3 separate regions of the Homo sapiens genome follow, and regions 1 and 3 are each linked to region 2. The links come from fine-mapping of genetic effects on gene expression. A gene starts in region 2. Each other region holds a variant in brackets. All regions are shown on one strand. Distances are from middle to middle.

What was found. PIP is the estimated chance that this variant, and not a neighbour inherited with it, causes the effect.
Region 1: its variant is fine-mapped to the expression of TTLL12 in monocytes (TOPMed, PIP 0.94).
Region 3: its variant is fine-mapped to the expression of TTLL12 in thyroid (GTEx, PIP 0.98).

The regions. Positions count from the first base shown.
Region 1 is chr22:43,161,633-43,169,804 of GRCh38, forward strand. It overlaps TSPO (translocator protein), which reads left to right. Exons shown (of 4, transcript NM_000714.6): 4 at 1,171-1,610. The coding sequence ends at 1,359. TTLL12 (tubulin tyrosine ligase like 12) reads right to left here. Exons shown (of 14, transcript NM_015140.4): 12 at 7,868-7,936; 13 at 7,142-7,280; 14 at 4,990-6,527. The coding sequence ends at 6,376. Among named protein-coding and RNA genes, the nearest start is that of TSPO, 14 kb to the left of the region's middle. RefSeq lists enhancers at 1,414-1,917, 1,918-2,420, 6,576-7,432, 7,433-8,172. The variant G/A (reference allele first, on the strand shown) is at 4,796.
Region 2 is chr22:43,182,429-43,190,600 of GRCh38, forward strand. It overlaps TTLL12 (tubulin tyrosine ligase like 12), which reads right to left and starts at 4,706. Exons shown (of 14, transcript NM_015140.4): 1 at 4,465-4,706; 2 at 552-721. The coding sequence starts at 4,641. RefSeq lists enhancers at 3,357-3,861, 3,802-3,881, 3,892-3,951 and silencers at 4,332-4,551, 4,592-4,751, 5,000-5,119.
Region 3 is chr22:43,218,677-43,226,848 of GRCh38, forward strand. SCUBE1 (signal peptide, CUB domain and EGF like domain containing 1) reads right to left here. Exons shown (of 22, transcript NM_173050.5): 11 at 4,421-4,540; 12 at 3,962-4,066; 13 at 2,497-2,613; 14 at 1,774-1,911. Among named protein-coding and RNA genes, the nearest start is that of SCUBE1-AS2, 10 kb to the left of the region's middle. RefSeq lists enhancers at 1,571-2,072, 7,190-7,756, 7,757-8,172 and a silencer at 6,404-6,569. The variant C/A (reference allele first, on the strand shown) is at 4,013.

The DNA.
Region 1 (8,172 bases), 21 kb before region 2:
GTGCACCACCACTCCTGGCTAATTTTTGTATTTGTATTTGTATTTTTTTAGTAGAGATGGGGTTTCACTATGTTGGCCAGGCTGGTCTTGAACTCCTGACCTCAGGTGATCTACCCGCCTTGGCCTCTCAAAGTGCTGGGATTACAGGTGTAAGCCACCGCGCCCGGCTGACTGCTTCTTTTTTAAAGTTTTAAACTTTTTTAAGAGATGAAGACTCGCTGTGTTGCCCAGGGCAGACTCGACTTCCTGGGCTCAAACGATTGATTCTCCCGCCTTTACCTCTTGAGTAGCTGGGACTCCAGGTCACGTCACTGTGCCCGGCAGCCTTTTTTTTTTGAGACAGAGTCTTACTCTGTTGCCCAGGCTGGAGTGCAGTGGCATGATCTCGGCTCACTGCAGACTCCACCTCCCAGGTTCAAGTGATTCTCCTGTCTCAGCCTCCCGAGTAGCTGGGATTACAGGCATGCAGCACCATGTCCAGCTAATTTTCTGTATTTTTTTTTTTTTGAGACGGAGTCTCGCTCTGTTGCCCAGGCTGGAGTGCAGTGGCGTGATCTCAGCTCACTGCAACCTCCGTCTCCCAGGTTCAAGCAATTCTCCTGCCTCAGCCTCCTGAGTAGCTGGGACTACAGGCACGTGCTACCACGCCTGGCTAATTTTTTTATTTTTAGTAGAGACGGGGTTTTACCATATTGGTCAGGTTGGTCTTGAACTCCTGACCTCAGGTGATCCACCCGTCTCAGCCTCCCAAAGTGCTGGGATTACAGGCGTGAGCCACTGCACCTGACAAATAGCAAGTTTTTGTTTGGGCCTTGTAGTAATGCTGGGAGGTCAGCATCGCTCTCAGTGGAGGCTCTAAGCTCAGAGAGGGGAAGGGACGTGCAAGACCTCCTAAGCCACCACCGCACCCTTGAACAAACCGAGTTCACTTCAGGCATGTCATGTGCACCCCACACAAGGCATGGGTCAGGTGGCATGACTGTTCCCATTTTACAGATGAGGAAACTGAGGCTGCGATGGGGGAGGGGCTTGGCCAGGTCACTCAAGGGTGGAGTGGGGGTGAGTGAGGCTCCTGACTCCCAAATCCAGTGGGAGTTGGGCAGTGGGACAGGCACTTGGGTGAACGCGGTGCCTCAGGCCTCCCCATCCTCCGTCCCCCAATCTCTGCAGGCCTTGGTGGATCTCCTGCTGGTCAGTGGGGCGGCGGCAGCCACTACCGTGGCCTGGTACCAGGTGAGCCCGCTGGCCGCCCGCCTGCTCTACCCCTACCTGGCCTGGCTGGCCTTCACGACCACACTCAACTACTGCGTATGGCGGGACAACCATGGCTGGCGTGGGGGACGGCGGCTGCCAGAGTGAGTGCCCGGCCCACCAGGGACTGCAGCTGCACCAGCAGGTGCCATCACGCTTGTGATGTGGTGGCCGTCACGCTTTCATGACCACTGGGCCTGCTAGTCTGTCAGGGCCTTGGCCCAGGGGTCAGCAGAGCTTCAGAGGTGGCCCCACCTGAGCCCCCACCCGGGAGCAGTGTCCTGTGCTTTCTGCATGCTTAGAGCATGTTCTTGGAACATGGAATTTTATAAGCTGAATAAAGTTTTTGACTTCCTTTACCATGGCCTTTTTGCTTGGGTGGGACCCCTGGCCACAGGGAAGAGGGGGAGCTGGGGCTGCACTGGAGCTCGTCTCTGCAGGATCTGCCTGGGCTGCCTTCTCCAGACAGGGCTGGATCCAGCTGGGGCTGCCCCACGCTTCCTGGGACGCTCCCGAAGCCCTGCAGGAGATGAACAGAGCAGCCCTGGGTGCCACCCTGGGGCCCACACTGGCGCAGACCCAGCTGGGGCCGTGGGCTTCAGCAGAGGGAGGGGGTCCTGTCCGCTTCCCATGGCTTCCGGGATGCTCAGCCCGGGCCCTTTAATGGCCGGGCCCACAACCACTGTTCGACGCCTGGTCCTGCCCAGTGCGTGGCCCTCAGCTGCTTTTACCCAGGACAGAGTTGGGGGTGCTGACTGCCCTGTCCCCCGGGGGCCCAGGCTTATGGCAGCCTCACTGCACCAGGGATAGCCCCGCAAACACCCAGTTGGCTCGAGGGGGAGTCAGAGGCAGGAAAGGTTAGGTCCCGACTCCAGCAGACAGGGCCTCCTTGCTGGCCCAGAGCGGCCAGGATTGGAGGTGTCACAGCCACTCACTCCCTCACCCCGGCTTCGAACTGGGTGACCCATGGCCTCTCCAGGCAGCTGTTTGGAGTAAATGAGCCGAGTCCCATACGCAGCACTCCTCCGTCTTGCTCTCGGTCACCACACCCATGCAGCACTCAGCAACACAGCCCGCGGCTCCCTCCCCTCGGCCAGGCCTGACCTGCCGGGCTTTTTGTTTTTTGTTTTTGGCAGCTAAGTTCATTCAAATTGGCAAAATGTTCATAGACAGCTCGTCATCACTCAACAGCCCGCGGCTGCTGCTTCCTCTTTTCTCCCCCGGCTCCTGTGTCCTCTCCCGACCTGTACGCTCAGACACAACCTGACGTTCACAAAAGCTTGGACACAGTGGCTCACACCTGTAATCCCAGCACTTTGGGAGGCTGAGGCGGGAGGATTGCTTGAGGCCAGGTGTTTGAGACCAGCCTGGGCAACATAGGGAGACTCTTGTCTATACCATCCACTCTGGTGCACGCACAACACACACACACACACACACACACACACACACACACACGAAAGAACGAACAGCTCAGGGAAATGGGTAGACAGTCGACTGCATTCTTCTGACAGAAGGGATGGCTCCCGCCCAGGGGCTGCGCTACTCCACCCTGACCCTCAGCCTCCCGCTCCCTTGACTCTGGCAGAGTTTGATGCCCAACAGATCACGCTCTGCAGGATCCAAAAACTCTGCGGCCACGGGCACTCAGCTGAGCCCTCAGCCCTCATGGCTTTCCCGATGCTCACCGGTGCAGAGGAGCCAGCTGGGGAGCCTCTGTGTATCCTTTTTATTAACTTATTTCTGAAGTTCTCCAAGACGCCCAGAGTTGAATTCCTCCAGAGCTCTGTGCAGACAGTCCAAGCAGCGGATGGCAGAGAGGTCCTTGCTAGCAAGAAACTTACAGGCCAGGCTGTCTCCTGCTCCAGCATGCCGGTGAGCATGCACCGTCCCCGCAGGGCACAGGGGTATCCTTTGAAGTGTCAAGGGACACCTGAGTCCGTGCCAGACACTTAGGGATTGGAGAAAGTGCAACCCAGACTTCTGCCATCTCCGCAACTCGTGGGGTTGTTCATCTGTAACAAATGTCCCACATAGCTCCTGCTGGCCACAAAACACGCACTGCCACAAAACGCCTTGGAAAAATGGGCGAGAGGAGAACGCATTTAGCATTTCGTCTGCCGGCTTCCTTTTAACAGCCTGGCGACGTTTCCCCAGGAAATGCTCGTAACAGACAGCATTCTCTCCTTTTCTAAGCTGCTGTCATCCACTGGGAACTTAAGGTTTTGATGCTTTCTGAGTGGGTTTATTTATTATTTTTTTTTGAGACAGTCTTGCTCTATCGCCCAGGCTGGAGTGCAGTGACGCCATCTTGGCTCACTGCAACCTCTGCCTCCCAGGTTCAAGTGATTCTCCTGCCTCAGCTTCCAGAGTAGCTGGGATTACAGGTGTGTACCACCATGCCTGGCTAATTTTTGTATTTTTAGTAGGATGGGATTTCAACACATTGGGCAGCCTGGTCTCCAACTCCTGACCTCAAGTGATCCGCTCGCCTCAGCCTCCCACAGTGCTGGGATTACAGGCGTGAGCCACTGTGCCTGGTCAATTCCGGCTTTGGATGGCTTCTTAACACAGTGATGAGGGTGCAAATGAGTACCAGGAAGAAGTATTTAGTGGGATAAACATCTCCCGGCAACTGCCTCAGCACCTGGAGCCGGCTGGTCTTCCGGCTCATGAAGTCCCTGGCTCTTGGCCTTCCTTGGGGGTGTCCATTTGCAGTGAGCAGAGGTGCAAGGACATGTGGGGACAGAGAATAGCCATCTACAATCATGGAAAGCCTGGACCATGTGGTCTTGATTCTGGGGGCTGTCCCAGCTGCTCCCTGGGCAGGACTATCTCCTGGGCACCAGGTTTTAAGTGAGCTGGGAACTAGTGAGAGCACCAGCTGTTAAGCTTCTGGACAGAGTCCGTGTGAGCATCAGTCCTGAGACCTGCCCTGGAAGGGAGGCTAAGGAGAGAAGCAGCACAGTCCACAGGCAGCCTGCCTCAGGGCCGCTCTGCCTTCCGCTTTTTTTTTTTTTTTTTTTTTGAGACGGAGTCTCACTCTGTCGTCAGGCTGGAGTGCAGTGGTGTGATCTTGGCTCACTGCAACCCCCGCCTCCTGGGTTCAAGCGTTTCTCCTGTCTCAGCCTCCTGAGTAGCTGGGACTACAGGCGCGCACCACCATACCCGGCTAATGTTTGTTTTTTTTTGTATTTTTAGTAGAGACAGGGTTTTATCATGCTGTCTGACTGTCTCGATCTCTTGACTTTGTGTGACCTGTTCTCTGTCCTGCCTCGGCCTCCCAAAATGCTGGGATTATAGGCGTGAGCCACCATGCCTGGCCTGCCTTCTGAGTCTTAACCTCCTTGGTCACCATGTGGCGCTGCTTCCACCCACTGACGGTGTCCATGCACCTGCTCAGCAGTGGCCCGAGGAGCCCTGCAGACGCCCCAGCAGCCAGGGTTTCTCACCGTCCCCACCCCAGGACAAGGAGGCAAGTGTGGGGAGGCTGCTATCTCCAGGGCCACTAGAGCTGTGGGGCCACTCGAGGACCGAGGCTCCC[G/A]GCCGGCTTGGAAACAGATCCAGCACATGGAAATCAGACTGTGGGGTGGAGGCCTGCGATATAAAGGCCATCTTATTTCTTCTCCCACTTTTTGTGGGTGACTTCTTGGTATCCGGGGCTTTTCAGTGACAGCCGGGGCGACAGGCCAGGCTGAGCCTGTGGCTCCAGGGTCCAAAGAGAAAGGAGGGCAGAAATAAGAGAAGATGGCCTTTATTGCAGCACGAACTGAGGGGGACTGCATGTCCACAGCTCTCCAGGAGCTGCCAAAGGCGACGGGCCCGCCCTGCCCCTGCAACAGGCCCTCCAGGGGCTAGAGCATGGCTCCCCTCAGGAAGGGTAACGCGTGCTTGTAAACAAGGGCCCAGACAACACAGAGAGGAGAGGCAGCATCATCAGGTGCAGCTTTGCTACAAGAAAGATAGTTCTTAATTTCAAAGAGGAGACACCGCTACACCTAGCCCTGCCCTCCCATGCACTGGAAGGCTCTGGAAGTAGCTCTCGCCTGCCTGGGCAGTTAGGTCCACCCACTGCCCGTGAGCTGGGCCCAGGCACACTGCAGCCACACAAAAACGCTGGCAGCTGACTCCTAATTTCAGAAACACAATTAGAAAAGAACTGGAATTTTACATTTTTCTCCCATACATTAAAAAATAAGAAAAAGCCAACATTTTGACTGTAGACCCTGGTAGGTGGCATCTGACTTTAACCTGAAGTTCTCATTGGAATCCTTTTCTGTCTGGCGCTCCACCGCCCACAATCAGCCCCAGCCCCAGGCGCCCCTTGCCGAAGGATCCTGGCCCATCTCACACAAGGGCGGGACCCCGTGGAGTGCCCGGCGAGCAGGGCAACCACTGGGAAGACAGATACTGATTTCCCTGTTGGGGTCTGTGACCCTCAGCAAACGAAAAGGAAACGGTAACAAGACGGTGGCCTCCTGCCAGGACCTCAGCAGGAGGTTTGCTGGTGAAGGTTCTGGGTGAGCTGGAATGGGTGATAAGGCGGGCTTGCTGGGTGGTGGCCTCAGGCTGTTCCTGGGCCCCTGTCGCATAGAGCCCTGTGGGTGCAGTGTGGGGCCCCACAGCCGTCCCGGGGTCGTCCTGATGCATAAGAGCAGAGACCCCGGAAGAGAAACCCGCCTGCCCCGTGTGATACAGGGCTCCCAAACGCTTCCCGGTGGAACCCTGCTCCCGAGGACACCTTGTCTCGCTCCACGGAACCCTTCCCCCAGCACCCCCTGGAAACACAGCAGCCAGGAACAAATTCTCCATGCCAGGAACAAAGCCCTTGGCTAAACTGGAGACTCATCAGTGCACAGATGGTGGTGAGGGGTGAGGGCAGGGCGTGGGGTGGTGCTCAGCCCTGGGGACACCATCACTGTCCTGCTCTGACCCACAGGTGAGAGGAGGATGCTGTGCTCCCGGAGTGTGGCGCCGGGAGGATGGCTCGGCAGGACAGAGGCCTGGGGCTGAGGCTATGCCCAGGGCCGGTGTGGGGAGGGACATGGGGGCCTTTGCAGAAGCAGCTCAGAGAACTGAGGTTGGAATCCTGCCCCAAGCACAGGTTTTGGGGACAGCGAGTGCCTAGACAAGGCAGGTAACGTGGCAGCCACCGGGCTGGTCCAGAAACAAGGTGCTGAAGACGTCGTTGAAGAAGGTGGGGTGGTACCTGCAGGCTCGCTCACAGTCGGGGTTGAAGTTCACCTCCAGGATCTGCGGCTGCATCACCCGCCTTCCTGATGGCAAAGAGCGCAGCAGAGTGTGAAGGCTCGTTGGCCTCCACTCTGCAGGGACAGTGGCCTGGGGATCCAGCAAAGGCTGGGAGGCCATGAACCTGGGCCCTGATTCCCAGGGGATGAGCAGGACAAGGCCGGGCCTAGAACTTGGGTCTCTTGACTTTGCTGGGGAGGCCTGGCCTGACATCTGCTTCTCTAGGAGAGGCCAGGGCTGCCTCCAGCCCTAGGGATGACAGCCTGGCCCTTTAAGCTTGGATGTTCAGTTTAGTAAAAAAAAAAAAAAGTAGATATGCAGCAGCAGTGTACTGTGTGGGGGTCTGGCACAGGGAAGGCCAGCCAGGGTGGTGTGGGTTGGGGTCAGGGTGCCTTTCACACGGGTCTCCTGTCCTGTGAGCTCTCCCCCGACTCAGAGGCCCAACCCGCAGCCTTTCCCCTCCAGACTCTGCACCGCAGGCACTTCCTGTGGGCCAAGCCAGGGCTTTCCCCAACCCAGATTCCTGGCTGATTCAAGCCAGAGGACAGCCTGGGGCAGCTGCCTGCCTTCTCCAGGCTGTGGCTGGCTGGCGGAGGGGGCGCCTGCTGGTTTGGATCAGGAGATGGGGAGCCCCTCTTACCATCTGGGCCGTTGTCCCACTTCAGCATGAGGTCGACGGCATACATGGCCCGGGATGAGGGGTAGTCGCAGAGGCCCAGGGGTGGTGGCTTGGCACAGGCCACCTGGAACAGCTCCGTGAAGGCCCGGAAGATCTCAGCCTGGGGACCGGGGAGCCTGAGTTACGAGGCCTGCTCAGAACAGCCTCTCAAGAGGGGGTCTGCTGCCCCTGCCCAAGTCCCGGGCCCCACGTGGCCCAAGTCACCCCCTCCCACATCTTCACGTCTCTAGACCTCACCATGGCCACCTCCGCCCAGCACCTGCCCTCTTACTCCTGACGCCCACCTTCTGCAAATCTGCCCATCTCCTGCCGCAGACCCCGTTGCTCCCCACTGCCCCAAGGAGCTCAACACAGCACCCAGAATGCCGCTGCTGGACATGGAGGCCCAGCCAACGTCTCCATATGACTGGGAATCTAGGGTCAGGCAGTGCCGCCACCCTCTGGCTGTCCCAGGGGTGCCCCACATGCCCCTCCAGCTCCCTCCCTCTCAGGAGCACCCACAAATGCCCAGGGTGGAAGGGAGGGGAGCCCACGCTGTCTTGCCAGCCTCTGGGGAGAATGACCAACTGCAGGGGACAAAGGTCCCTCCCAGCCCATGCCAGCAGAGAGGGAAGGGAGCAGCTCCTGCAGGCCCCCAGCCCGGGACCCGCCCCACCGGCCTGCGATGGTGTGCAGGACAGGAATTACCTGGACGTCCGTCCAGGGAAATTCTGGGTATTGCTTCTCAAACTCGGGGATGAACTCTTCACAGTGCACCTGCAACAGACACAGGGCCCATCACGCTCTGTACAGGCCTCCGCTGGGCCGGGAGCAGGCAGCCTGCTACTGCCTGGACCAGGAGCTTCTGACACTGGGTGGGGGTTCCAGGAGCAGGCAGCCAACCCCGAACCCTCAGGGTCCAAACAGGAGGCAGGAGATGGAGTCTGGGCTCCAGGTCTTACTGTGTGACTCTGGACCAACGGATTAACTTCTCTGAGCCTGTTTCCTCCTCT
Region 2 (8,172 bases):
GGGTCCACAAAACCTTTGGCAGATGGGCCTGCAGGCCTGACCTAGGGATAGCCACTCTTGGTCCCTGGGGGCAGGAAGCCTGGGGTACAGTCTCAGCTCTGCCCTAACTACACCGTGGTCCTTGGCAAGGCCAGGCCTGCTCTGGGTCTCAGGTCCTCAGGTGTTCCAGGGCCCACCCCAGATTCCAATTTAGCAGGACCAGAGAGGGGCTGTGACTGGGGAGGAGTAAGGCTGACCTGCACCCTTAACCTGGAGGGTGACCTCGAGCAAAACTGGAACTTCTAATCCCCTGTAGCAGGACCACTGTGACAATGAGACCGCTGGGAGAGGCTCTCAGGCCGCGGTCCATCCGGTCACCCCAGGAACGCTGTGTTGCCACGGACAGTACTCTGAAGCCCTGATGGACACACCGCTGGCCACACGTGCTTGCCACAAAGCTGTCCTAAGGAAGATGTCCAGCGGCGGTGCAGGGCCCAGGAGAATCTGCATTACTGCATCTCCCACCTTTCACCAAGTGAAGGTTGTGGTGGTGTCTCTGGCCAGGCTCCTACCTGTTGGGGTGGGCTGCCTGGAGCCCGCTCTCCCTGGTCACGATGACCTTGTAGCACAGCTCGTTCCCCGGGTTGGGCTGCTGCTTCCGCACCTCCCGGGCTGCCTCGTCCTCCTCCTCTTCTACCTCCTCCACTTGCATGATCCCAAACACTTCCCCAGCGTCGAAAACCTGGGGGCCAGAGTTCCCGTCAGCAGGGGTGTGGGCAGGAGACCCCACCCCAATGCCTTCACCACTCCAGAAAGCCACCCGAGGTGCCACACCCAGGCCTCAAGGACAAACTTGTCTCCTTCAGAGGTGTGGGACCTGTTTAATGCAACCACACAGTCTTACGGGCGGGGAGACTGAAGCTCCTGGAGATTTCAGGCTCGGAACAGGGACCTAATGTACCCCACCGTCACCTGAGCTGTCATCCAGAGCCTCGTCCCACAGGATGCTGTGCATGGAGATGGGACCTTGAGGACTTGCTGGAGGTATCTGTAGTCCACCCCACTCACATTACACAGAAAGAGAGGCCCCAAAGGCAGAGAGGGTGGCTCCAATTACACTGGAGGTCAATGGAAGAGTCAGGATCTTGGTGGCTGGGGGCACACCCCAATGCCCCCCTCACCAGAAGAACCCCTCAACACTAGGACAGCTGAGTCAACTCACAGAGAAGCCTCCTCCAGCCCAGCCCCACCCAATCCAGGCCAACAGGAAGCGAGGCCCCAGGTCAAGGTGGGATGGGGAGATAAGGGCCTTGGTCCTGCCTTGTGCGGCTAGTCAAGCAGGCAAGTGACCTCTTCTGGTGTGTGTGGAGCAGAGGGGTCCCTGGCACAGCCACACTCACGCCCTGTCTGCCACAAGCCGGCAAGGGGGGCTTCTGGGCAGATTCTGGAGCCAGGCTGTGTGGGTTCAAATCTTGGTTTCACCACTTCCTAGACAAGTGACCTTGAACAAGTTACTTAACTATCCCATGCGTGTTTCCTCATCCACACAATGGGAATAACAGAACCTCCCTCTGAGGGCTACTGGGAGGATTAGGTGATTCATACCCAGAACTCAGAGTGGAGCCTGGCCACAGCAAATGCTCTATAAACACGTGGCGCCATTGTTACACTTCTGAGACTGTTTCTTCACTTGTGAGAGGGGGTGTCATCCACCTTTCAGGACACTGATGGAATGAAATCAAACAGCGTGCATAAAGTCCTGGCGCACAGTGGAGGCTCAACAAAGGCCAGTTCCTCCCTAAAACGTATTTCCCACTACTCGATTAAAAACGGCAGTTGGAAACTAGCTAAGTACTCAGGTGCAGGCAGCTTTTGTGCACTGGGCAGGACTTGCCCTTTGGTGGCGTGAGGATGAATCACTCAAGGTCTCGCTCAGGAAGCTCAGGCTGAGTAAGGTCTAGGCCACCTAAGAGTATCAGGTAAATTGCTCTGGGGCCTGGAGGGCCTGGGAAGACTTTATGGATGAGGAACCATAACCAGAGGCCAGCTTTGAAGAAGGGGAAGATTTAAACATGAGGCTACGGGGTGAGGATGGAAAGGAACTCCACGCAGAGGGAAGAGTAAGAGCGAAGGCCTGGAGGCAGATAGCCCAGGGTGGAGCAAACCAGGGGTCACATGAGAGACAAGGCACCTGAGACAAGAGCCATCCAGTTCTCCTTTAGCCCTCAAGGTGGGTCTGGGGAGGCTACTGCCTTCTCCAGTTTAGGGCTGGGGGGAGGCTCAGAGGGCTGGAATCCAGACCTCGGGCTTCCGCCCCAGTACTCCAAATCCCTAGGGGACAGCGTGAGGCTGAGGGTCAGAGAGCCTGTCTCAAGCCTGGCCTGGATTCAACCCAGCTGTGAAATGGGGTGCTGGGTTTCTCCTTCACCACAACCCCTTCATGGCAGGACTGGAAGAGCTCCCCAGGAGATAAGGGGAGTGGTTTTGCAACTGGGAAGCTTGTGCAGACAGAAGAGTAGACATTTTAAAAACATCTCTTCGGCCGGCCGTGGCGGCTCACGTCTGTAATCCCAACACTTCGGGAGGCCAAAGCGGGCGGATCACGAGGTCAGGAATTCGAGATCAGCCTGACCAACATGGTGAAGCCCCATCTCTACTAAAAATACAAAAATTAGCTGGGTGTGGTGGCGCACGTCTGTAATCCCAGCTACTCGGGAGGCTGAGGCAGGAGAATCATTTGAACCCGGGAGGCAGAGCTTGCAGTGAGCCGAGATCATGCCACTGCACTCCAGCCTGTGTGACAGAGCAAGACTCCGTCTCAATTAAAAAAAGAAAAAAATTATATATATATATATATATATATATATATATATATATATATATATATATATATGTATGTATCTTCAAGTTTCCCCATCCTTTCCAGGGCAGCCGGCCTAAGGTGAGGCAGGAGGGCTGATGGCCAGGGGTGTAAGGGCCCACAGCGCTGGCAGGTGCTGCTGCTGCTGGCGGCCTCCTCCACACCTGGGCCAGTAGCAGCAGGAGGCTTCACTCAGGAAGAGCTGCAAGTTTGTGAATGGTAAAGCAGTGATTCAGCTCTGTCCTTAACGGCTGGGGAAGGGTCACGGAAAAACACTGGCTGCCCCTTAGTAGGGCAACAGCAGGCAAGGCGGCCTGGGCAGGGGACGTGGCACGGTGGCGACCACCCTCTGTGTGCCAGGCATATTTCTCATGCCACCTCCCATCCTTCCAATACTGTGGGAGCCAGATGGTGTCTCACCATCCCCTTCCCAGATGGAGAACAGGTCTCAGACGGGCGAGTGACCGCCCGAGGGAGGGCGTGCTGCCGTGGAGGCTGGCTGGGCAGGAGCTGGTCATTCCCACTGTGCTCCTTCCACGCAGCCCATGGGAACCTTTTTGTCCTCATGAACAAACCAAGGTCCCTTCCACCCAGCACAGGCCTGGGACCAGAGTGGTCCTCGGAAAGCATATGGCAGAAGTGAGGGGCAGAGGAAACTCTCTGTTACACTGTAGCATAAGGAGGTGCCACTCACTGCACGTTTCCAGCAGGAAGGTTCCTAGTCCAATCAGGATTACACAGAGAAAAACTGGCTCAGAGACCGTAGAGTCTGGCCAGCAGCCAGGCTCAGGGACTCCTAGTTCCCGGCCCGGGTCCCTGTTCTTGGCTCTGGGGTTTCCACTTCATCACCTGCGCCACTAGGCTCATCTCCGTCCGGGAGACAGCACCTGGAGGAGATGTCGGGTCCCAGCTAAAGAAAACACCCCCCCCCCCGCCAGCCCGGGAAGGTGCTGTGGCCTCAGCCTCTGGGCACGCAATAAAAATCCAGGGCTCATCCCCAGCCAGGACAGTGGGGAACGCTTTGGAGTGGAGGAGGCAGGTGAGCCGGATGGGCCGTCCTCACAAAAAGGGAGAGAACCTAGAGGCTTCTCAATCTTTTCCATTTTTCTTTAGATTTCTCCTCCACCTCTCACAGCCTGTTTTCTTTAACCTGCAAGATGAGGGGACCCCGAGGCTCAAATCAAATGAAAAAACACCGAATTCTGTGAACCCAACAGTTACAGCTACACAAATTCACGGGGTTCCCGTTGTCCCTGTGAGGCAGCGGCTGAAAGAATCCCTCTGAAGGGACTCTCGGAGCCGCAGTGTTCTCATCTGTGAAGTGGGGGTGATGAGTTTCACTCCTCGCAGGGCTGTGTCAGGCTCGGGTGTGTGGAGGACCTAAAGTTCCCAACGCAGCCCTCAGCCGGTCTCGGGCCCGGGCAGATCAGGGCCGCAGGTACCCCGGTCTCCTGCTGTCACTCTTCGGCCCCCAACTCCACGCCGCTCCAGAGCTGCCCAGGACGCGCTCTGGGTGGCTCACCGCGGCTCCCGCCGCCCGGGAGCGCTCTTCCCTGTCCCGCGCCGCGGGCTCCCGCCGCGCTCCCACCCCGGCCGCCGCACGTGCCCGCCGCCCTTCCCCGCACCTCGTGCTCCAGCTTGTGCAGGAGGCGGCCCCAGTAACGTTCGGGGACCCCCGAAGCGCGCAGCGCCGGGCCGTGCAGCGCCGCGAACTCGGCCAAGGCCTGCGCGCCCTCCTCCGGCGTCTGGCCCGGGCTGCTACGCTCCGCAGGCCGGCGCTCGGGACCCCGCTCGGCCTCCATGGCGCCAGCACCCGCGCCGACTCCAGCGCCGCCACCGCCGCCGCCGCCCGCCGTCCGTCGGCCCTGCCCTCCCGCCTCCGCCCCCTGCCCCGCCCCGCCCTCCTCCCAGCGCCCCCCCCCCCGCCCCGCCCTCCTCCCAGCCCCCCCCCGCCCCGCCCTCCTCCCAGCCCCCCCCCGCCCCGCCCTCCTCCCAGCCCCCCCCGCCTCCGCCCCCCGCCCCGCCCGCCTCCCAGCACCCCCGCCCCGTCCTCCTCCCAGCCCCCCGCCCACCGCCCCGTCCTCCCCCCAGCCCCCCGCCCCTGCCGCGCCCCCTGCCCCCGCCCCCTGCCCCCCTCCCCACCGCCCCGTCCTCCTCCCGGCCCCCCCGACCCCTCCCCTGCCCCGCCCTCTTCTCGCCCCCTCACCCCGTCCCGCCCCGCCCCCAGTCCGCCTCCAGCCCGGTTTGCCGCGGCCCCCGGGCAGGCCCTGCGCATCGGCGGGGTGCGTGCGAGAGCGCGCGAGCTTGCCAGGAGGGGGCGCGCGTCTGCGACCGCGCCTGTGGTTTGGCTGCCGCCGTGTGCGCACGCGCACCTGATGGTGGCTGAGCTTTTCTCGCTCAGCGCGCGGCGACCCCGGGGAATGCCGGGAGGGCGGGGTGCCTACGTATAGGGCGCTGTCAGGACCGGAAAAGGCCCCACCGACGGCCCGGAAGGTGTCCTGGGGCCCGAACCCGGTGAGGCGGCGCTTCTGTGCCTGCACCGGGCACACAGAGCTCGCAGGCCCCCTGCCTTGGGAGCTCTCGATTCTTGTGAGCGTTTCACCAGATTTGGATGCTGCAAAATCGTGGCCCTTCTCAATTACTTATATTTGGATTCGGAATGTCAGTTGATCCAATTAAGACCAAGTGTACCCGTCAGAGGAATTTACTCCTACATGTCGGGATGTTTCGAAGTGCAGTTGAGCTGGGCGTGGTGGCCGCGTCTGTAGTCCCAGTTACTCGGGAGGCTGAGGCGGGAGGATAGCTTGAGCCCAAGAATTCAAGTCCAGCCTCGGCAACATAGCCAGACTCCCTCTTTAAAAGAAAACAGTTCAGTTATAGAATTTCAAAAGACATTCTCTTTTGAACTCTCATTGAGTTTTATTGCTCCATAGGGATACATTTCAATGTCTTCCTTTTTGCAATTTTGTAAGAATTGTAATTTGCTAAAAAACAAAGGCTGAAAATTTTTTGGAGCTTCAGATGCTATTTTGATAACATTTTTGAACTGAGTTTGAATAAAATGCACCAATTCACGGACTTGTTCAATTCCATTGTAGGAAGCAGGTGGGTCTGCAAAGGCAAAAATTTCCAAACTCAAGTTGGTGAGGGCTGCAGAGAAAAACATTTTATTTATTTATTTATTTTGGGATGGAGTTTTGCTCTTGTTGCCCAGGCTGGAGTGCAATGGTGCAGTCTCGGTTCACTGCAACCTCTGCCTCCCGGGTTCAAGTGATTCTCCTGCCTCAGCCTCCCAAGTAGCTGGGGCTACAGGTGTGTGCCACCACGCCTGGCTAATTTTTTGTATTCAGTAGAGACAGGGTTTCACCATGGCCAGAGGAAAACCCTGATTCCTCGGTTTTTGTTGTGGAAGCCAAGGCTGAGATTGTACCATTGCACTCCAACCTGGTCAACATAGCGAGACTCCATCTCAAAATAAATAATATAGTAAAACAGCATCACAATGCTAGGATGGGGCATGCTGGCTCACACCTGTAATTCCAGCACTTTGGGAGGCCAAGACAGGAGGATCACTTGAAATAAGGAGTTTGAGACCAGGCTGGGCAACAAAGCAAGACCTCGACCCTACAAAAAGAAATTTTTAATTAGCCAGGTATAGTGGTACACACCTAGTGCACCTCCCGCTTCCACAACCCTTCCATCGGTCCCGCTGGGGAAGACAGACTGAGTCTCAGTTGTGTCAGGTACTGGTCAGATTATGTGAACATTCCTGACCCAGCCCCTTTGACCAGGAGAATGTGAGGCTCTGACAGGGCAGTCCTCTTTCACATGCTCCTCCCCAAATGTAAACCCAGTTGTATCAGATCCCTACTTGGAACCCTTTGTGGTTCAACTCTTCACCTGAGCTCCAAGGCTCTGTGTGAGCTGGCACTGCCAACTTTTCCAGCCTCTTTTCATTACACTCTTCCCCTCACACTGTGAGTCCCTGTATCTCTGGTTGTCTTCAGCTCCTGGAAAGCATTGTGCTCTGTTTTCTGCCAGAAAGCCTTTCTCCCCATGCTCACTTTGTAAATCCTGACTCATTCTTCTCAGCTGAAATGTTGTCTTCTAAAGAGGCACTGAAGAATGTGTATTTAATCAACATAAAATTACTGCTCTGCTCCCATTACTGCCACCAACCCCCTCCCCCTCCAGACAATTGAAAAAAAGGAGAGAGAGAAACAGGGAAAAAAAAAAGAGTTTAAAAGTCCCTTCCATAGCCGGGCACAGTGGCTCATGCCTGTAATCCTAGCACTTTGGGAGGCCAAGGCGGGTGGATCACCTGAGATCAGGAGTTCGAAACCAGGTTGACCAACATGGTGAAACCCCATCTCTACTAAAAATACAAAATTTAGCCGAGCATGGTGGTGGGCACCTACAATCCCAGCTACTCAGGAGGCTGAGGCAGGAGAATTGCTTGAACCCAGGGGTGGGGGTATGGAGGTTGCAGTGAGCCAAGATCGCATCAACTCACTCCAGCCTGGGGGAAACTCCGTCTAAAAATAAAAAAGGCCCTTCCATCCTGAAAATCCAAGCCCAGGTTGACCTTTGGTCCCTGATAGCTTTTTGTTCTGAGAGCTTTGCCAAGGGTACTCATACAAAATGGGTTTTTCATACAACATGGAGCCTAAACCCAATACAATGACTTTGTGAAAGTTGATCATAAGAATTGGGTCACCAGGCGTGGTTGCTCACCCCTGTAATCTCAGCACTTTGGGAGGCCGAGGTGGGTAGATCACTAGGTCAGGAGTTCAAGACCAGCCTGGCCAAGATGGTGAAACCCCCGTCTCTGCTAAAACTACAAAAATTAGCCTTGGTGCGGTGCCTGTAACCCCAGCTACTTGGAAGGCTGAGGCAGGAGAATTGCTTGATCCCTGGTGGCAGAGGTTTCAGTGAGCCGAGATCGTACCACTGCACTCCAGCCTGGGCCACAGAGTGAGACTCCAACTCACAAAAAAAAAAAAAAAAAAAAAAAATTGGGTCATTCTTGTCATAATTAAAACAGAGTTGAGAAGCCAAGAGGGAAAAAGCATTTGGGGTGCAAGGCATTGTTCCCAAAATGTAATTCTCTGTAAGCCCGACTGCTGAAACTGCTTGTGGTAACCTAAAACCATTTATTGATAACTTCTGAGATAACTGACTGCAACTCTAGGACTAATAAGGCTCACCAAGCTGAGCTTACTAACTCCCCAAACCCTTACAAGTACCAGTGAACTTTCTCAAAGAGCAATATGTAACATTTCTTCTTCTTTTTTTTCTTTTTGAGGAAGGGTCTCACTTTGTTGCCCAGGCTA
Region 3 (8,172 bases), 36 kb after region 2:
ATCTGAGTGCAATCCAGGCAGCTGCCACTGCACCACATCACCCCCCAGGGTACGACTCACGGGGCAAGAACGCCTTTCTGTCACTCAAAGACTCTTGGGGACTGCCACTGTCCCCAGGATAGTGTCCAGCTCTCTGGCCTTGAATCCAAGGCCCTTCAAGGTCCAGCCCCGTATGGCCTTGCCAGCCTCATCCCCTCCACTCTGACACTCCCTGTGGATTCCAATGTCTAGCCACCTGGCCCTACTTACTGCTTCCTGGACACCTCCTCCTCTCTCTGACCTCTGTGCCTTTGCCTATTCTATTCCCTCTGCCTGAATGCCATTCCTTGCCACCTTTTCCACCCAGTGAGCTTTGATTCTAAGCTCTCATTCAAATGGCACCTCTTCTGGGAAAGCTTCCTGATATGGTTTCAATATTTGTCTCTTCCAAACCTCATGTTGAAATCTGATCCCTAATGCTGGGGGTGGGGCCTGGTGGGAGGTGTCTGGGTCATGGGGTAGGTCCCTCATGAATGGCCTGGTGTGGTAGTCAGTTCTTGCTGGCTCTACTAGTCGCCACGAGATGTGACTGGTGAAGACATAGGCACCCCCTCCCCTCTCTCTTGCTCCCTTACTCTTGCTATGTGATGCCAGCTGCTCTTCACCTTCCTCCGTGAGCAGAAGCAGCCTAAGGCCTCGCCAGGCAGATGCTGCTGCCGTGTTCTCGGACAGCCTGCAGAGCCGAGAGCCAATAAGCTCTTTTCCTGATAAATTATGCAGCCTCAGGTGTTCCTTTTAGCAACGCAAATAGACTAAAACATTTCCTTTTTTTTTTTTTGAGATAGAGTCTCACTCGTCGCCAGGCTGGAGCACAGTGGCGCGATCTCAGCTCACTGCAATCTCTGCCTCCCAGGTTCAAGCGATTCTCCTGCCTCAGCCTCCTGAGTAGCTGGGATTACAGGTGCCTGCCACCACACCTGGCTAATTTTTGTATTTTTAGTAGAGACAGGGTTTCACCATGTTGGCCAGGCTGGTCTTGAACTCCTGAACTCAAGTGATCCACCCACTTTGGCCCTCCCAGACTGCTGGGATTACAGGCGTGAGCCAGTGTGCCCAGCCAGACTAAGACATTTCCTAAGCCCTCCCGTGGGGGGCAGACCTCAGTTCTATGCATTGTTTGTTCTTGTGCCCCCACCACCGAGAGTCCCACCTGGCAATGGGTGGTTTGCACGTGCGTCTGCCTCTCTGGCTGAGAGTGTTACCTGGGTGGGGACTTTTCTTTCCACAGCGCCCAAGCCCACAGCCAGGCCCATACCACACTTATCTGCTGACAGATCCCATCTCTTCAACATCAACGACTCACAGGTTGACACTCACATATAGCCAAGAGCAAAGTGCTGCTGTGACACCCGAGCCAGCATTAGAACCTCCTTCAGGAACCAGGAAAGACAATCCTTGGCTCAACCATTCTAGGGGGGCTGCACCTATTTGTCCTCCCGGGTCCCAGCAGGAGTGTGGAGGGGCAGATAAGGGTCATGTGACTTTTGAGGTCACCTCGGCTCTTCTGTCTCATTGCCCTGGGCTGCCTCTTCTATCCTGGGCTGCAAGCGTTGACCCCTGCCAGCTCCCTTTGCTTGTGGGCCTGCCTCTGTCTCCAGAAGCTGGGCTCCCATCCCAGCCACAGCTGTGCTCTGGTGGGAGCCTAGCTTCATGCCTGGCAGGCCCCCGGCAGCGCCACCAGCCTGTCGTCCTCCTTCAGGCCTGCAGAAGCCCCCAGGAGAACCCCTCACCTACCTGAGGCCTCTTCCATCTTTGTCTCGATCTCAAACTCTGCTGTGATGTGGGACACCTCCTTGGATGGGGACTTGCGGCCACGGCGCCTCTTCTTGGAGGAGTCACACTTGAGGGTCACGAAAGTCACATGGCAGTGGTCTGGACGAGGAAAGGACCACTGTGGCAAAGGCGGCATGGGGCAGGGAGCAAGGTCCTACCAAGCCCTGCATACAGAGTGCCATTGGCAAGGACTTCCTGGTCCGTGGTGCAGACGGAAAAACTCAGGCTAGAGAAGGTCAGGGCTGGCTCGGGGTCTCAGGAGGGGCTGGTGGCTGAGCCAGGTCTCACGCCCGGTCCATCACGCTGCTGCAGGTGGAGGCATCTCATACATATTCATGAATGAGGCTGTGCCCCCAGCTCTGGGCCTGCTGAGGGTTTGGCCAGTGCAGACTCGGCTCTGGGCAGAGCCTGCTGCGTGCTGAGAGCTCTGTTAGGTTTGAGAAGGAATCTTCACGGGGACAGAGCTGGTGCCTTCCTCCGGGGCCCCTCGTACCAAGCTTGCCCTCCGCTGTTTCCCCAGCCTGCAATGTCCTTGGAAACTCTCATTCAATAAACAGCTGCCAGGTGAGAGAGACCTCCACCCTTGGAAACCAGACTCGCTGGACCCTGGGGCCCCAGCTCCCAGGCATGAGGACTCTCCTACAGCCCCGTTGGTGTGGGTTAGGAGCAGGGCGTCCCACTCACCCAGCAGCGGCTGCCTGGCGGTCTCCTTTGCTCGTGCCTGGCTGTGGGGCCGGAGGTGGCACTTGGCATCTCGGATCTTGAAGCGGGCCTTCTGTTTGATGGGGGTGGTGGGGGCATCTGGGGAAAGCCAAAATTCCCCCAGGTGGTGGCCTCTCCTGCAGGCAAGGAGGTGGTGGGGGACGGGGGCTGCCAGGGGACAAATCCATCTGGAGCTGGGGGTGGGGCTTGATCTGAGTCCCTGTGCCCCGACAGCTCTCCTGGGGTGGGGGACCCTCTCCTGCCCCATTTCTCTCCCTGCAAGGCCTAAAACAGGTGAACACATGGATGGTGGGGTCAAGCTCAAGCCCAGGGGCCACCCGCCAGAGGTCTTCTGAGAAGGAGGACAGGGATCCTCCTACCTCCTCCCCATCAGCAAGCCATGATTGTGCTTTAGGAAAGAGCGTAGAACAGAAGAGAGATAGGACAGCAAGGAAGGGAAGGGGCTTTGAAATACTATAGATCCAGGACTGCCGGTTCCTTGCAAGAGCAAATCATAGCCCTTGGACTAAAGAATCCTACCACCACAGGTGCTTAGAATCAAATCACATATGCATTAAATATATAGAAATGGGCAGGGTGCGGTGGCTCACGCCTGTAATCCTAGCACTCTGGGAGGCCGAGGCAGGCGGATCACTTGAGGTCAGGAGTTCCAGACTAGCCTGACCAACATGGTGAAACCATGTCTCTACTAAAAATACAAAAATTAGCCAGGTGTGGTGATGGGCACCTGTAATCCCAGCTACTCAGGAGGCTGAGGCAGGAGAATTGCTTGAACCTGGGAGGCGGAGGTTGCAGTGAGCCGAGATCACGCCACTGCACTCCAGCCTGGGTGACAGAGCGAGACTCCGTTTTAAAAATAATAATAATAATAATAAAGAAACATACAGAAATGCACCTATCTATCAAATCCAGCATCCTGAATAAGAAAAGCTGCTGAAGACACAACCCTCAGCTCCTTAGCTGGCAGGAGCTAAGGCTGGCTGTGCCATGCCGACCAAGCCCAGCGGGTCACTCCCAAAGGGCTGGGACTGTGCTGCACCTCGGCGCTTCTTGGCATGCTCTGCACGGCCAGGCCAGCTCTGACTCGGGAGAACCTAATAGCCACAGCAGATGTGGCTTGCTCCACCCATACAGTCTGAGATCTGTGCACTCACAGCACGTTAGAGTCCCTGAACCACTCTGGCTGTGACCTCAGAGCCGGAAGGGCCCTCCCACGGTCCCCTGACCCTGGGCTAGAACTCGGCCTGCAGCCTGCTGGCTTCTAGGTCCTGGGCCTGGCTCATCGCCAGCACCCCAGGCCACACGGAGCAGGGCCGAGAGCAGGAAGGTCTTCCCTGGGCGGTGCCCTTTCCTCCCCCGCCAGCATGTTGCTGGATGCAGTCAAGTCACCCAGTGGCATGCAGCATGGACAGGCCGGGGGGGTTACCTGAGCAGCTGGGCCCGAGGCCAGAGCTGGTGCCGTTGCGTTTCTGCAGCG[C/A]CTTGCCCTGCGGCCCTGGAACTCCGCAGCTCAGGACGTAGCTATTTTCCGAGTCTGCAGAGAAGCCGGTGGGTGAGGTGGGCCTGGTGCTCCTCCCTCCCACGGCCCTCAGATTCTTGGGGCCTCAGAGGGATTGTGGAGTGAGACGAAGATCAGGACAGATTCTTCTGCCAGTTTCTGCTACACAACCACAGGGAAGTGGCCAGGAGGAAGGAGCCCACTGGGTTTACTGAGAAGGACAGCGAGGCCCACAGAAAACCAGACAGCTGCCTTAGGGTCACTCAGTTATCAGAGACCCTCATTCCTAGGTCAGACTCTTTCCTGGAGGACAGCTGGGAGCAATGGTGGGACCCCAGGGAGGAAGACCCCCCTGCCACAGCATCCCATCTCAGGGACGGCCCGGGTTACCTGGCACGAAGAGTGTGTGAGCCGGGCAGGAAAGGAAGCAGCTCTCCACACCGCCTGCCTTGCTGCAGGACAGCTGGGCCCGGGGGGAGGTCTTGGCGCGAGAAAGACACTTGCCTGTCTCTATGAAGGGAGATACGAGAGAGGGCTGAGAGAGGCCAGGGCGGAGGCTTCCTGGAGCCAGGAGGGTCCTGGGTATGGCCTAATGGGGACTCCCCCAACTCCCTTCTTCCATGGCTGGGCTGGCTTGGTGGGAAGGCGCCTGGAGATCGCAGGTCCCTTGGGCGTGTGGGGATGCTGGGCCCAGACAGCTGGCTTAGTCCCTCCTCCCCTTCAGGCTCTAATCCTGGCTGTGAGAAGGTTCATGTCCCCATCCCCAGATCAGAAACTCCCTGAGGGCAGGGCTGAGCTCTCCAGGGCAGGCGTCCATTCCCACTGGGGAAAGGAACGGCGCTAAATGAACACTGGCTTCCTGGGAGGGGCCGTGGGGGGGATCGCTCGGAAGCACCTCTTTGGGGCAGCCTCTGCTACAGCCATCAGGTGTCTGGAGAAACAGCCCTCCAGAATTTCTCACTTGCTTACTTATCTTTAGAGGATGAAAAAGTCCCCCGGACTCCTAGGAAAAGACGGACGGTTCTACAGCCATGGTAAATACCAGAACTGATTTTACAGATGGCTAATTGGTCGGTGACAACCGGCTTATGTGGCACGCCTCTGAAAGCCACCTCATGAGTGACAGCCTCGCACTCTGGTCAGTCATCAATGTGGAGTTACTCCAGTGTAACCAGGCTTCCAGGTTCAGTCAAGTCACCTCCCTTCTGTAACCCACACAGGCCATGCTTCTAGACTCCCATCAACCTAATCCCAACCTGCCTGGAATAAGCTTTGCCCCAAATCCCCAGGGAAGATCAGCAGTTTGCTTTGCTCCCTGAGCCTGCCTGACCAACACAGCTCCCCCTTACTTAAGCGACAGCTCAGCTTTCTGGTTTCAGATACTGAGCGGTGGCTGATCTCATCCTTTGGTAATTCTGGAGGTTCCTCCAAGATTGTTTTAGAAACCCTTGCTTCCCAGTGTCCTTTGGGTGCCGTGGGCCACAGGTGTCCTTGGTCAACCCCCGGGGCCCACATTTTGTCTGTCCTGCTGATTGCTTTCTGCGAGGGCACCGTGTGACAACACTCTGAGCTCTCACTTGCTTTGCTGCTCTCTCGTGCTGACTGCTTTGTTAGCAAGTGGGCCTCTGGCTGGGGAGCAAGACCTTGTGTTCGGAGACACACATTTACCTGTGTGTTCTGCTGCTGGGCACTTTGCTTTTGCTTGACTATTAGATAAAGGTTTATCCCATGAGTTTTGTTGTGCTCTGACTTGTCTTGTGTTTGATGGATAGATAACAGGGTGCTCCTTGGGGACCAGATGGCGACACAGGCCCTGCATGCTTCCAACTCAATCCAAGCTGGCCCCCAGGATCAATGGTCAGAGGTCTATGATACTAGGGGCCAATTCCTGTAGGCAACTAGGCAGGGCTTTCCTTGGGTCCCTTCTAAAATCTTCCTCAGGGCGCTCCTGTTCTGCCAACACGTGAAAGGAGGCCCCTTTGTTTTCTCCATATTCTGGGGTCACAGCTGTCAGGTCACTGACTGCACGGCCCTTTCCAGCCTGTGTCTGGTTGGGGGAACCGGAACGTCATGCTAAGCACACACTTTTGACTGATGAAAGTGATGATCATGGGCTGGTTATGCCAAGGCTGCAACTTCCCTGGCTGAACTCCTGCAGCCTTATGAATTTAGACTATTATCCTAACTTGTGCTTGTCCTGGTAAATGGCAAACTGCCCCCTACTCACCACAAAACCTAAACAGCGACAACTACCACCACCAGCTTAGAATAACGTTGGTCATTGTGGGAACTTCTGACACATCAAAACTAATACATTAATATATTTAAGAGGAGCTCTAAAATGTTAGGAGACAAAATTTCATCATTTAATAGCTTCTGCCACTGGTATACCTTGGCCTCAGTTTCCTCCCACTCAAACCTTCCGAAATCCACTTGCCACTCTCTCTGCCCAGCTCCATCTTCACCAGCCACTTATCGCATCACCCCCCCACTCCTGCCCCTCCATCTCCTACACAAGCAACTCCTCCCTTAGGGTTTATCCCAGGAAAGCCAGAAATCAGATCTCTAATGCTGGATGTAAAGCCACGTCTAGAGCTATGCTGAGTGCTGAAGGAAATTTTCCTAAACTCCAGGAGACAGACAAACATTTGCTTAAGAATTCAGGATATCGCTGGATAGTTATTGTCCCGGATGATCAGATCTGTATCACAATGAGTTCACCTAAGTGTTAGGATCTTGGATGGAAGAAAAAGTTCAAAAGCAACAGATGGTAAAGAGCAGTAGAAGCGGCCGGGCTCGGTGGCTCACGCCTGCAATCCCGGCACTTTGGGAGGCTGAGGTGGGTGGATCACAAGGTCAGGAGGTCGAGACCAGCCTGACCAACATGGTGAAACCTCGTCTCTATTAAAAATACAAAAATTAGGTGATCTGGTGATCTGCCCACCTCAGCCTCTCAAAGTGCTGGGATTACAGGCGTGAGTCACCGTGCCCGGCCAAATGTTTCTTTCTGAGAAACTAAATGTGTCAGCCTCTTTCTTCTGCCACTCAGTTTCTTGCCCTTTGGAGGCAGGTTTGCGTAAACCTGCTCACCACAGAGCAATGACCCCCTAACACCCTCAATGAACAACGCTTTCCTGCAAAGAATCTGAAGGTACCATATCCTTCCTATGCTTGTAAGACGGAGATCCCCTCATGCTGCCTCCGCCACCCGTACAACCCCAAACAAGCTCTTTCCCAAAACTCAGCAGAAGAGCAGCAGTTGACTTTGTTCAGTGAGACTTTGCCTGAAAAGCACAGCAAGTCCTTCCACAAGTACGTGATAAACTCAGCCTTTGGATTTCAGATATTAAATGATGGTTTGTATTCGTTAATGTGTTCACTGACAAATATTTACTCTGTGTCTGTGATTGTCAGGGTCTGTTCCAGGTGCTGGGGCTCTAGCAGTAAATGGGACAGGCCAAGAAGACCTGTTTAACTGTGTAAAGCTTACATTCTAGTGAGGAGAGAGAGATGGACAGACAGACAGACATACACCAACACGAACCTGTAAAGTGCACATTACTTCTGGTGGCTGGGAGTGTGATGGGAGGGAAAGCAAGCTGGAAGCACAGGGGGCCCAGATGGGTGCGGAAGTGGCCAAGGCTGCGGCTCTGGGTGGGTGATGGGGCAGGCCTCACTCACAGACCCTCACAGCAAGGGAGGAGTGAGGAGTGCTGGTGTGGGGGGGCCCTCCAGGCCAAGAGAAGCGCACAGCCTCGGGCTGAGGGCTGGTGGAGGCCCTGCGAAGTCAGTGAGGCTGGCGTGAAGCGAGGGAGACAGCAGAGGGCAATCCTGTCAGCTGGCGGCAGCCTTCGGGCCATTCCAAGCGCTGTGGCTTTGATTCAGAGTCAAAGGAGGAGTTACCGGGGTTGGAAGGGGCGGAGGGTGGGGGTGGGGGCGGGGTTCTGAGCCCAGAGGGATGTTCTAACTTACATTTAAAAGGCTCACTTAGGCTGCCCTGGGGATGTCAGAGTGTGGCGGGGCAAGGACCCGGCGTGGAGGTTCCAGGAGGGCAGGCCCACAGCCCCAGCACCCAGACAGGGTCCCATGTACAGGGAACCAGGGAACGCAGGGGCCCGTCCAGAACTCAGCCTAGGGGCACC